Homo sapiens: one gene and its partner. The protein of the gene in region 1 interacts with the protein of each later gene in a pairwise test. Each region holds a gene or a part of one and is shown in the gene's direction. Other genes may lie near its edges.

Region 1 (7,613 bases):
ACTCCCGGCATAGATAAGTCCAACACAGTGGGGTAACAGATCATCCATCTTGGAGCCCAGATCTTTAAAGAAAAATCACACAGGAACACAAATACACACACCCACACATGTACATATCACTGTCAAGGGTAACTTAGCAGAATCTTGCCGAGTGACTGGGGGAGCTGAATATGGTTGTCAACATGTATTCCCCACTTCGGGTAAATCTGACAGACTAGCCTTGTTTTTCTCAAATTCCAGAGCCAAGCTTTCAATATGGTTTGTCTTCTTTGCTGGTGTGCGTGAATCTCTGAGCCATAACTGGGGCGTGTGGTGAAACGATGGAATCACGGACTTTTAAATATTAACAGGCAACTTAAAAAAGCCCATTCCAACCACCTCATCCACCAGGTGAGACAAGACGAAGGGGCCGTGGGTGACACAGCCTGTGGCAGGCCTATTTCTGCAGTCCCCTGTCAGGCACATTCCTGTATTTCAATGGGCACCTAACACTTCACCATATCTCCCACGTGGGGAACCAACACTTAAAAGGTGATTTGTGTAAACAGAAACCTCCTTTTCATGCTCATTGATAGGGATAAACAAGGAAGCACCTCTGGAAGAGGTAACACTACTCACTTAAGTTTTAAGGTATCAGCATGTATCCAAAGAGAAGGATTTAATCAAGGGAGGGCTGAAGGAGAGGAGAAAACAGAAGAGAAGCAGCAGAAGGGCAGTGGATGAAGAGGGCGAGGTCAAAGTCAGAGAGGCCTAGGGACAGCTACTTACAGTTCAGGACCTGGACTGGCGCCAGGAATGGACTCCAAGGGGTGAGGGCCCAGCTTCTCCCTGCCTTCCTCCCAAAATATGCAGAGACCTAACTGGATTCCAAGGGATGAGGGCACAGCTTCTCCCCCCTCCCACCCATTTCCCAACATGCAGAGCCCATGGTGGCAAAATCCCCTGGCTCAGGCTAAAGTCAGAACTGGTCTGGTTTCCTGTGTTTTTCAAATCTCTGCCATTTGGGCAGAACGCTTGGTCCTATAAACCAGGAGTCATCAGTATCCACAGAGAAGTTGCCTCAGCACTTGGACCCAAGTCAACTGTGTTTAAAATTTCACACCAAATCTATAAATTACACATTCACATTGTGGGCCAGCCTACCTTTTTTTTCAAATAGTATTCAAGGTATTTTTCTTTTTTTTTCTTTTCTTTTTTTTTTTTTTTTTGAGACGGAGTCTCGCTCTGTTGGCCAGGCTGGAGTGCAGTGGCGCCATCACGGCTCACTGCAAGCTCCGCCTCCCGGGTTCACGCCATTCTCCTGCCTCAGCCTTCCGAGTAGCTGGGACTACAGGCACCCGCCACCACGCCTGGTTAATTTTTTGTATTTTTAGTAGAGACGGTGTTTCACCGTGTTAGCCAGGATGGTCTCGATCTCCTGACCTCGTGATCCGCCCGCCTTGGCCTCCCAAAGTGCTGGGATTACAGGCATGAGCCACTGCGCCCGGCTATTCAAGGTATTTTTCAATACCTTGCTGCCTGGCTACTGCAGTGCCAATTCTGCCATTCCCCCCCGCTCCTCAATTCAGGCATCACCTGAGGGACTTGCAGAGCATCAGGGATCTGGCCCCTCTGAGATCTTGCTGGTCTACTCAAGCCTTTGTACAGCACCAGGCAACGAAATTAAATGTGGGACATGCACTATCACAGAATAACTTTTTAATTGCTTAATTAAATCAGAGATTTAAGGAAGGAGAGATTCAAAAGAGTTCCCTTTGAATGAGAAAAATAAGGATATGCCAAAATGGATAAAGTTACTAATCATGGGAACAAAGCCCTTAGTATTTACATATGATAAAAATGCAGGCCAGTATAGTAAAATCAGTAAGTACATTCTTTAAAATTTCAATTCAGTATATTCCTGAGATTTTATTATACAGGTAGTACTATAAAGAACATAGAAGACCTCATTATCCAACTTAATTCAGACCAGGGTTTGATTAAAAAAATAAAAAACAAAAAACTACCACACAGGACAAAGAAATTGCCATAAAATTGAGTTCCTATAAATGTGTTCCAGTTTAAGTAACTAAGTCCCTAAAATGAGCCTTAGTAAAGTCTACGCTGCATATAGACAGACTTAGGCACATCAAGTATACAGGTGACAATTAGCAAGTGTATAAAGCTATGGTCATTTCGCTAAATGTGTAAATCTAAAGGCAACCAAGTAAAAGACCTAAAAAAGGAAACTGTTAAGTCCATTTGTACATGGATTTAACAGTGAAGCATTTCATTCTTCATGTTTTCACTTGGTGTCTTGAAATAATCCCCTTTCTGTCTCCACTCTCCCTCTTAGACACTGCACCTGCCTTATTTATTTATGAAGTCTGAAGGTTAGTCCTACCTGCTGAGACTAATTAGCCCTGTGCTTTGTATCCTATGCAATCCTGTCTGATTAAATGTACACATTTGTTTTACTTCTTTTCAGGCTCCTTCTCACTCTACTTCTGATATTCTGATTAATATCAAAGTTGGGAGTTACAGTGATTCTCCTCTGCCTCCCCCCCAACCCATTTTTATTTTGCCTGCATCTTATTCTTTAGTGTGCAAATGTGGTTGTGATTTTTTTCCAGTGCAGGGGAATTCGTTGGCCTTGTCAATCTCGGTATCATTATTTTTAGTAGTCTTTCTGAGACTTTAGCCTATAAAACAGTTTTGCTGAAACCCCAAACTCTCTAAATATTACATGGCAAATTTGCTTTCTTTTGGAAACCTCGGTGCTGATGGGCCAGCTGAAGTGCAGGTGAGCTTTTTCAGGGAAGGGTGGGACAACAGTACATCCTGGACTCTAGACTAATACTACTCCTAAGAGGCAATTTGCTAAATCCTACTGATTTATTTTTTTCTTTTTTCTCTTTTTCATGTTGTAGTGTCCAGTCTACTTCTTACTGGGTATTTGCAAAAATGAATTTTCTTGCTCTATCACCCAGGAACATTGTGTTTTGGGAGCTGGGTCTTTCCTCTTTAACATAATTCCATTCCCCATTTTGTAGCAAATCAGTCTGCTCCTCCTCTAATACCTAAAAGTCAACAAATACCTGCCTCAAGCCCCAGGTTTCCCATCTTCTCCCGAAGGTCTTCTAGCATCGGTTTGGTTAGCAATTTCCTGCCAGAGCCACCTACATCTTGATTATTTTGGTCAGTCTTTCGGGGATTTCATTTCAGACCCCCTTCGAGAAACACTGTAGCCCAACTGATCCCAGGGGTTGGTGAACTTTCAGTTTTATTTTCCCTGACGGTGTTAACGCCCAAACTTTTCACCTCCTAAGTCAAAAAGGACTTTGACTCTAGCTCATTTCCTACTACCTCCAACGTCAGTTAAAAAAAAAAAAAAAAAAGCAAAACACCACTCTACATTTAAAAGAATCATATATTTTTCCTTAAGGATACTTTTAATGTTTCTGACATTTAGCATTTGTTTTTTGCATAAAAAGTCGTTTTGGCATATCCATCCTAGTGGGACTTAACATTTCATGAAATGATTCACTACTAATAAACAAAAAAGGGAGGAGGGAGGCCTCATGGGTTAATAGTTTCTTTCATTGTAGATGACCAGGAACTTTGACCAGCCCCTTCACTTCCCCAAGCTCTCTGAAAGTGGAGGGTTGATCTTTCCTTTTGACCACTTTTGTCGCATCCCGTCTAAGGGTGGCTGATTTCACTGCTGAATTAACCACCAAGCACCCCCCCACCCCCTCCCCCAGCCACCACTTTCTCAAATACTACCCTTCCTTTTCCCCCTCCCTTAAGACTTATTTCTAATATTTCTAAAGTGCACTGTTTTGGGCCTCTCCCCATCCCCGCCCCCCAAGTGGGCTTTCCTTCCGCCTTCCTCGGCTCGGATTCCTGACTTGGTCGCCACCCCCTTCTCCTCCTCTCCCACCCCGCATTGTCTTTCTGAAACCGCCCCCTCCCGGAGCAAGTCCCTGCACCCTCGCCCAGAATCCCGGGCTCGCACACACTCCGCGCAGGCCGCTCCCCCTGCACACTCCTCCCTCCGTCTCCCCCCGGCTTCCCCGCCCCTCTCTTCCTCCTTCTTTCCCTCCTCCCTCTCCCGGCGCCCGAAAGGATCATTGTTAGCCGCCCCCGCCCCGCCCACCCCGGCTGTTTATTTATGCACACGTCACTGGGCCGGCCCCGCCCTCCGGCATCTCATTAAGGCAGTGTGTTCCTCTCGCCCTGTCAATAATCTCCGCTCCCAGACTACTCCGTTCCTCCGGATTTCGATCCCCCTTTTTCTATCTGTCAATCAGCGCCGCCTTTGAACTGAAAAGCTCTCAGTCTAACTTCAACTCACTCAAATCCGAGCGGCACGAGCACCTCCTGTATCTTCGGCTTCCCCCCCCCTTTGCTCTTTATATCTGACTTCTTGTTGTTGTTGGTGTTTTTTTTTTTTTTACCCCCCTTTTTTATTTATTATTTTTTTGCACATTGATCGGATCCTTGGGAACGAGAGAAAAAAGAAACCCAAACTCACGCGTGCAGAAGATCTCCCCCCCCTTCCCCTCCCCTCCTCCCTCTTTTCCCCTCCCCAGGAGAAAAAGACCCCCAAGCAGAAAAAAGTTCACCTTGGACTCGTCTTTTTCTTGCAATATTTTTTGGGGGGGCAAAACTTTTTGGGGGTGATTTTTTTTGGCTTTTCTTCCTCCTTCATTTTTCTTCCAAAATTGCTGCTGGTGGGTGAAAAAAAAATGCCGCAGCTGAACGGCGGTGGAGGGGATGACCTAGGCGCCAACGACGAACTGATTTCCTTCAAAGACGAGGGCGAACAGGAGGAGAAGAGCTCCGAAAACTCCTCGGCAGAGAGGGATTTAGCTGATGTCAAATCGTCTCTAGTCAATGAATCAGAAACGAATCAAAACAGCTCCTCCGATTCCGAGGTAGGAAAAGCCCCTCGGGCTGGTGGGGTTTTTTATCTGTTTCCTGGGCTTGGCAAATGTTGCTGAAAGGGGAGAAATCGGGGCTGGGGGCGGCGGCGGGGCCCGGCGGGCGGCGTGTGCGTACGGTGCCACCATTGCAAAAACTTGTAACCCTGTTTTTTTCTACCCCCCCCTCGACCTCGCCGATTCTTTTTCTCCCCCTTCTCCCCCTTCTGCGTGGCGTTTGCCCCTCGCCCTCCCCACCTCCACCCCTCTGGGAAGGCGGAAAGACGGCCTCCGCCTCGCTCCGAAAGTTTCCGAGACAAATCCCGGGAAAGTTTGGAAGAAGGTGAGTACGCCCCGCGCGCCCCGCAGCCGCCCGGAGCCGCCCCCCGGGCCGGCCGCCCCGCGCGCCCCGGCCCCGCGCCCGGCTCGGCCTGGCCCTGCGCCGGCCCGGTCGGGGCGCCCGGCCCCTCGGGGCACTTTCTAAAAAGTTTCTCCTCACTCTCTCCCGCTCCGCGCGGCCGCCGCTGTCCCCTCGCCGCCCCGCCATGTTAGCGGCCAAGAGGCAAGATGGAGGGCTCTTTAAGGGGCCACCGTATCCCGGCTACCCCTTCATCATGATCCCCGACCTGACGAGCCCCTACCTCCCCAACGGATCGCTCTCGCCCACCGCCCGAACCGTAAGTGCCTCCGCGCCCGGCCCCCGCCCGCTGCCCGCCCGCCCGCGCCGCCCGCCGGGCCCCGCATGCGGCCCCTGCCCTGCCCCCTCCCCGCCTCCCCCTCCCCGCCTCCTCCCCTCCCTCCCTCCCCTCCCCCGCTCGTGGCCCAGGAGGCCCGAAACTCTCCAAACTTTTCTGCCTTTTGTGGACTGGATTTGTTTGCACTTCGCCACGTTCTTGCTTTCAGTTTGCTGCCTCGTGATGTTGGGGAGACCTCTCTGTCCAAGCAGGGCTTTGTTGGTGGGGAGGGGGGGGAATCCGAAGAACTTTCCTTTGCGTTCTGGTTCCCCCTCCCCCTTTGGTGGTGGTGTTTGTTTCTTCACCCTGGGAAGATGACTCTGTGGCTCTTCCTTTGCTCTCTCTCCCTCTCTCTCCTTCTCTTCCTTCCCTCTTCTGTGGCGTCTTGGGCTTTCCCCGGTTAACCCCTTGGCTGCCGCTGCGGGCCACGAGTGACTGACTGTGCTGCGCCCGATGCGCGGGGTAGAGAGTGGGTTTCCTCCAGGCATTGGACTTGAGAACTGGCTAGCGCGCAGAGCCCGGGGCCCTGGAGAGGCTCCTTGGCTTTCTCTTTTGGGCGACTATGTATTTAGCTTTCTAGTGGAGATTGCTGGCTCTCGGCCCTCCTTCCCCCTTCCCCTGGAAGGTCACACTTCCCAGATTGGTCCCACCGCAAACTTGGGGGCTCTGAGGCGTCCTTTTCTTTGGCAACCCGCAGGGCCGCGAGCGCCCTGGGCGCCGTGGCGGGCTCCGCTGCCCGGCGCACTGGCTGCGGGCTCTCCCGGGCCGCGCAGGGCAGCAGGGCTGAGTGGGGCGGGGAGGCCCCTGCGGCCCGGATTCTTGGTTTGTGTGCAGCCGGAATGGACTCCTCCAAGCGGACTTGTGTATTTCTAGGGAATTTTGGCGCCTTGGGATGTATGGCGGGGTCGGCGCTCGCCAGCTTCCGTGTAGGCCCGTCGTGGGCCCCAGGGGGGCCAGAGACCAGGGTGTGCGGGCTCAAGGAGGTGCGGGGGCCGAGGGAGGCTGGGGCGCCTCTCCTTCAAGGGAGTGGGCCGCCGATCGCCGGCCACCCAACTTTGGGGGCCCCAGGGCAGCGCGGGGTGCCGGGCTCGGGGGGCGCTTCCTGCAGGGTCGGTCCCGCGCCCAACCCTGACATTTGTTAATACGGCTCATCCCCTCCCCCACCGGCCTGTGCCCCCTGCCCTCACCCTGAACCCCCTCCTCCTCATCCCTCCCTCCCTCTTCTAAGAAGCCTGGATTACGAATCCCTGGACGCAAGACGCATTTGTGCCCGGCTTCCCGGTATTGTCATTTTACACCTTCTCCAGTTTGGTCCCCTACCCCTTATTTACACACACGACTTTTGTTTTTTCTTTTTCGGTAACTCTAGATAGCAATTTGAAATAATGCACCCACTGTTCAGCAGCCATGGATTCGGTGCTAATGGCCGAGGGCTTGCCGGACGGGAGTCGATCAGATCTACAAGTGTTTTTAAGCATTAAAATATTAACTATCAGGTTTGACTTGCTTTTTTGGGCCCTGGCAAAATGGCAAGGGCATGCTAGACCGGTCATTTTTTTTATGGCTAGGGAAGAGAAATAATTATTCCCCCCCTGCCCGGCGCCCAGACATGCTTGGGAAGCTGGGAGAGCGGTTCGGCTCAACCCCCTTCTCCAGGGCCAGTTCCACCAGGCTGCAGGGGCCGCGCTCTGGGCTTGCAGCTGTAGGGGAAGCACAGTTCGCTTACTTTGTATTTTTCTTGGGAGCTTGTGGGGCATCTTAAACGGGACCGTTCGGCTCAGAATCGCAGTGTTCGCCTACCAATAAACCGGACCAAGCAACATTCCAAAGAATCCCTGAGAATTTCTGCCTCTCCTCCCCTCCCCCTTCCGATGGAAACCTCCCTGGTATTATTTTAAAATCCACTTAACCATCTGAATATTGAGCTTTGATGGCGGGCTTGCTAGCTTTCTTGACTCTTTTTAAACTCGCTGTC
Region 2 (5,424 bases), on another chromosome or scaffold:
GAGGCCCCGGGCAATGTGGGTCTCCTGGATCAGAGGCTGGCCCTGCAGTGGGTGCAGGAGAACGTGGCAGCCTTCGGGGGTGACCCGACATCAGTGACGCTGTTTGGGGAGAGCGCGGGAGCCGCCTCGGTGGGCATGCACCTGCTGTCCCCGCCCAGCCGGGGCCTGTTCCACAGGGCCGTGCTGCAGAGCGGTGCCCCCAATGGACCCTGGGCCACGGTGGGCATGGGAGAGGCCCGTCGCAGGGCCACGCAGCTGGCCCACCTTGTGGGCTGTCCTCCAGGCGGCACTGGTGGGAATGACACAGAGCTGGTAGCCTGCCTTCGGACACGACCAGCGCAGGTCCTGGTGAACCACGAATGGCACGTGCTGCCTCAAGAAAGCGTCTTCCGGTTCTCCTTCGTGCCTGTGGTAGATGGAGACTTCCTCAGTGACACCCCAGAGGCCCTCATCAACGCGGGAGACTTCCACGGCCTGCAGGTAACTAGTGGCTAGCTGGCGTGAAGCTGGCTCCTCTGGGTCCCAACGGTCCCTCCCCTCCCTGCAGGGACCCAGGCATGAGGGCTTCTCCAGGCCCATTCCCAGAAGTCCCAGAAGTCCTCCCTGAGGGCTCAGATCCCAGGGTGGTCAGCAGGGCAGACAGGAAAGCCACCATGGGTCTATTTTCTCTTTCTCTGCATCCCTCCCCTGATCTCGTCCTCTCTCTGTCCATGGTTCCGGGTCTGTAACTGTTCATCTCTCTGGCTCTTTGTCTGTCCATCTGTTTCTGTCTACTTGTCTGTCTGTGCCTGTCGCTCCATCCCACCCCCCTCTCCCTCACCCCCAGGTGCTGGTGGGTGTGGTGAAGGATGAGGGCTCGTATTTTCTGGTTTACGGGGCCCCAGGCTTCAGCAAAGACAACGAGTCTCTCATCAGCCGGGCCGAGTTCCTGGCCGGGGTGCGGGTCGGGGTTCCCCAGGTAAGTGACCTGGCAGCCGAGGCTGTGGTCCTGCATTACACAGACTGGCTGCATCCCGAGGACCCGGCACGCCTGAGGGAGGCCCTGAGCGATGTGGTGGGCGACCACAATGTCGTGTGCCCCGTGGCCCAGCTGGCTGGGCGACTGGCTGCCCAGGGTGCCCGGGTCTACGCCTACGTCTTTGAACACCGTGCTTCCACGCTCTCCTGGCCCCTGTGGATGGGGGTGCCCCACGGCTACGAGATCGAGTTCATCTTTGGGATCCCCCTGGACCCCTCTCGAAACTACACGGCAGAGGAGAAAATCTTCGCCCAGCGACTGATGCGATACTGGGCCAACTTTGCCCGCACAGGGTCAGCAGTGCAGAGGGAGAGAAGGCTGGGGAGGACAGGAGTCGGGGGCGGGAGGACACACAAAGGCAGACACACGGAGACAGAAAGGACGGGTGGGACAGGGGCAGGATAGAACAGCCAGAGAGGGATATGCTCACAAAGTAGATAAAAGGGGAGAGAAAAAGAAAGGAGACAGAGAAGGCAGAGGGGGTCTTGCAGAGACAGAGGCAAAGGAAAGTGAGGAGGAGACGAGGTAGACATGGAGGGGGCGGGGCACAGTGGCTCACCCCTGTAATTCCAGCCCTTTGGGAGGCCAAGGTGGGAGGATCCCCTGAGGCCAGGAGTTTGAGACCAGACTGGACAACATAACAAGACCCCGACTCTTAAAAAGAAAAAAAATACAAAACTTAGCCAGGCACGGTGGCTCGTGCCTCTAGTCCCAGCTACTTGGGAAGGTGAGGCAGGAGGATTGCTTGAGCCTGGGAGGTTGAGGCTGCAGTGAGCTATGATGGCACCACTGCACTCCAGCCTGAGTGGCCCTATCTCTGGAAAAAAAAAAAAAAAAAAAAAAGGGAGACCAAGACAAAGGAGTTGGAGCTGGATTAAGTCAAACCAGTGATGATTCACTAGCAGTGACACATTCTCTCACACACACACCAGTTTACCTGGATCGAGAAGAGGACAATGAAATCTAGCATTGGATGGGTGTTGTTAAAAAATGTGATGTTTGTAGACATAGGACCCGTCCTGGTTATTTAGGAAAGTCTCAAGACATCCTAGCCATTTTTTTAGTGAGAGAAACAAAGATGGAACAGAAAAGCTGAGGGAAACGGAAGGAGACGGAGCGCTTGAGGAAGGGAAGACCCCAATGACCGCGCACATTGGAGAAAGTGGTGGGAGGGAGGGGACGGGTTCTCTGGGGCTCTCCGCTGAGCTGAAGAGTCCGGGATCCCGTGGAGTTGGGGGCCACCTCCTCCCACTGCCCGTCTGGACTGAGCCTTCCCTTCCTTCCGCAGGGATCCCAATGAGCCCCGAGACCCCAAGGCCCCACAATGGCCCCCGTACACGGCGGGGGCTCAGCAGTACGTTAGTCTGGACCTGCGGCCGCTGGAGGTGCGGCGGGGGCTGCGCGCCCAGGCCTGCGCCTTCTGGAACCGCTTCCTCCCCAAATTGCTCAGCGCCACCGGTATGCAGGGGCCAGCGGGCAGCGGCTGGGAGGAGGGGAGTGGGAGCCCGCCAGGTGTAACCCCTCTCTTCTCCCCCTAGCCTCGGAGGCTCCCAGCACCTGCCCAGGCTTCACCCATGGGGAGGCTGCTCCGAGGCCCGGCCTCCCCCTGCCCCTCCTCCTCCTCCACCAGCTTCTCCTCCTCTTCCTCTCCCACCTCCGGCGGCTGTGAACACGGCCTCTTCCCCTACGGCCACAGGGGCCCCTCCTCTAATGAGTGGTCGGACCGTGGGGAAGGGCCCCACTCAGGGATCTCAGACCTAGTGCTCCCTTCCTCCTCAAACCGAGAGACTCACACTGGACAGGGCAGGAGGAGGGGGCCGTGCCTCCCACCCTTCTCAGGGACCCCCACGCCTTTGTTGTTTGAATGGAAATGGAAAAGCCAGTATTCTTTTATAAAATTATCTTTTGGAACCTGAGCCTGACATTGGGGGGAAGTGGGAGGCCCCGGACGGGGTAGCACCCCCCATTGGGGCTATAACGGTCAACCATTTCTGTCTCTTCTTTTTCCCCCAACCTCCCCCTCCTGTCCCCTCTGTTCCCGTCTTCCGGTCATTCTTTTCTCCTCCTCTCTCCTTCCTGCTGTCCTTCTCCGGCCCCGCCTCTGCCCTCATCCTCCCTCTCGTCTTTCGCACATTCTCCTGATCCTCTTGCCACCGTCCCACGTGGTCGCCTGCATTTCTCCGTGCGTCCTCCCTGCACTCATACCCCCCCTTCAACCCGCCCAAATGTCCGATCCCCGACCTTCCTCGTGCCGTCCTCCCCTCCCGCCTCGCTGGGCGCCCTGGCCGCAGACACGCTCGACGAGGCGGAGCGCCAGTGGAAGGCCGAGTTCCACCGCTGGAGCTCCTACATGGTGCACTGGAAGAACCAGTTCGACCACTACAGCAAGCAGGATCGCTGCTCAGACCTGTGACCCCGGCGGGACCCCCATGTCCTCCGCTCCGCCCGGCCCCCTAGCTGTATATACTATTTATTTCAGGGCTGGGCTATAACACAGACGAGCCCCAGACTCTGCCCATCCCCACCCCACCCCGACGTCCCCCGGGGCTCCCGGTCCTCTGCATGTCTCAGGCTGAGCTCCCTCCCCCGCGGTGCCTTCGCCCCTCTGGGCTGCCAATAAACTGTTACAGCCACGGGAGTGTGCGCGACTAGGGAGCCAGGGGTAGAGGCAGAACGCCGGAATCACGGGGGCCGAGTCTATGCAGGAGCGGGGCTGGAGGGCAAGAAACAGGCGAGCTCCGAGGCGGGCGCAAGGCAAAGGCCAACCCCTAGCCCTGCCCTGCCGGGCGGAGCTCGCGCCTGCGTAATGAGGCCCGCAGGCAGGCTAGCTGGCACGGCGGAGGGGAGGAGAGGGGAGGGGAGGGGAGGGGAGGGGAGGGGAGGGGCGGGGCGGGGCGGGGCGCGGCGGAGCATTGTGGGAGCTCCTCGGTCGGTGCCGGTCGGTGGCTGCCTATTGCGGCCTGCGGTGATCAACGAGGCCCGGGGAGCGCGTCCCCAGTCTGCGCGCCGGTCCTGCGGCAGCTGGCCCAAGACCCGGAGCCGAAAGGAAGTGTTGGAGCCTGAGGTCGCTCCGCGCCGCTAGGAGGACGCTGTGCCTGGCCTGGGACCTCCGCTCCCGCCCACCGCCCTGGAGCCGCTGAGGGACGTCCACGTGGGCCTGTCCCCGCCGAGCCGCGGCCCTGTCCGCCTGGCGCTGCTCTCGGGCCACTACCTCTACTACCACTACGGCTGCGACGGCCTGGACGACCGCGGCTGGGGCTGCGGCTACCGCACTCTGCAGACGCTGTGCTCGTGGCCAGAGGGCCAGCCCGCGGGCGTACCTGGACTGGCCGCCGTACAGGCGGCCCTGGAGGACATGGGCGACAAGCCCCCCGGCTTCCGGGGCTCCCGGGACTGGATCGGCTGCGTGGAGGCCAGCCTCTGCCTCGCTCACTTCGGAGGGCCCCAGGGACGCCTCTGCCACGTACCCCGGGGAGTGGGGCTGCACGGGGAGCTGGAGAGGCTTTACTCGCACTTCGCAGGGGGTGGGGGCCCAGTCATGGTTGGGGGGGACGCAGATGCCAGGTCCAAGGCCTTGCTGGGAGTCTGCGTAGGGTCAGGCACGGAAGCCTATGTCCTGGTATTGGACCCTCACTACTGGGGCACTCCAAAAAGCCCCAGTGAACTACAGGCTGCTGGGTGGGTGGGCTGGCAAGAGGTGAGTGCAGCCTTTGACCCCAACTCCTTCTACAACCTGTGCTTGACCAGCCTTAGCTCCCAACAGCAGCAGCGCACCTTGGACTGAGGACGAAGTTACAGAACTGAGATTCTCGGGTCCCAGACACGCACCTATGTACCTCCCACTGGTGTCCCTGCAAAGCCTGGCGCTTTTGACATCAATAATAAAAGTGGCAGGGCTGAGCAACACCTCAGGAGTTACTCTGGAAGGATGGAGGAGTTATGTAACACACGAGAGTCAGGAGCCCTGTGGAAGTGCTTTTATTAGCAGTAAGGCTGATCGTACAAAAAATTCTCAGAGCTTCATAGGACAAGGTAGTACAAGTATGGATGATACAGGACTGAGGAACGGGGGACGGCTCAAAAGAAATCAACATCGTCTGGGGCATCCAGGTCCCGATATTCCACAATGGCCCTTGGGTCTCCACGAACCATCCTGTGAGGTGAGAGGTACAGGATGAGAGCTGAGGGCTCCCAAAAGGGAGTCTGCAGGCGGCAACAAAGCTTGGGCGTCTGCCCTCCTCACCTGTTGCGAGGTTTCCCAGGATAACCTCCCTGGCCTCGGAAGGCATCATAGTTCCCTCGACCAGCACCATACGGGGCATGGGGGTATGGAGGGCCTCCTGTGGGGACTGCAGGGCGGACAGCACCAGCTATGACAGAGATCAGTGTTGAGTTGCAAAACTATG

The links.
Region 2: the proteins of TCF7L2 (region 1) and UFSP1 interact in binary tests that used the Homo sapiens proteins (3 or more experiments, as listed by UniProt).

Annotation. Positions count from the first base shown.
Region 1 is NC_000010.11:112,946,027-112,953,639, forward strand, and holds the start of TCF7L2 (transcription factor 7-like 2), read left to right. Parts: upstream 1-4,220; 5' UTR 4,221-4,730; coding exon 4,731-4,919; exon of another isoform or gene 4,920-4,981; intron 4,982-5,180; coding exon 5,181-5,247; intron 5,248-5,456; coding exon 5,457-5,581; intron 5,582-5,751; exon of another isoform or gene 5,752-6,316; intron 6,317-7,613. UniProt on the Homo sapiens protein: Participates in the Wnt signaling pathway and modulates MYC expression by binding to its promoter in a sequence-specific manner. Acts as a repressor in the absence of CTNNB1, and as activator in its presence.
Region 2 is NC_000007.14:100,888,221-100,893,644, reverse strand, and holds UFSP1 (ufm1-specific protease 1), read left to right. Parts: upstream 1-3,929; 5' UTR 3,930-4,145; coding exon 4,146-4,802; 3' UTR 4,803-4,924; downstream 4,925-5,424. Other genes in the region: ACHE (acetylcholinesterase), read left to right, coding at 1-480, 827-1,311, 2,307-2,476, 3,310-3,431; SRRT (serrate RNA effector molecule homolog), read right to left, coding at 5,096-5,171, 5,262-5,388.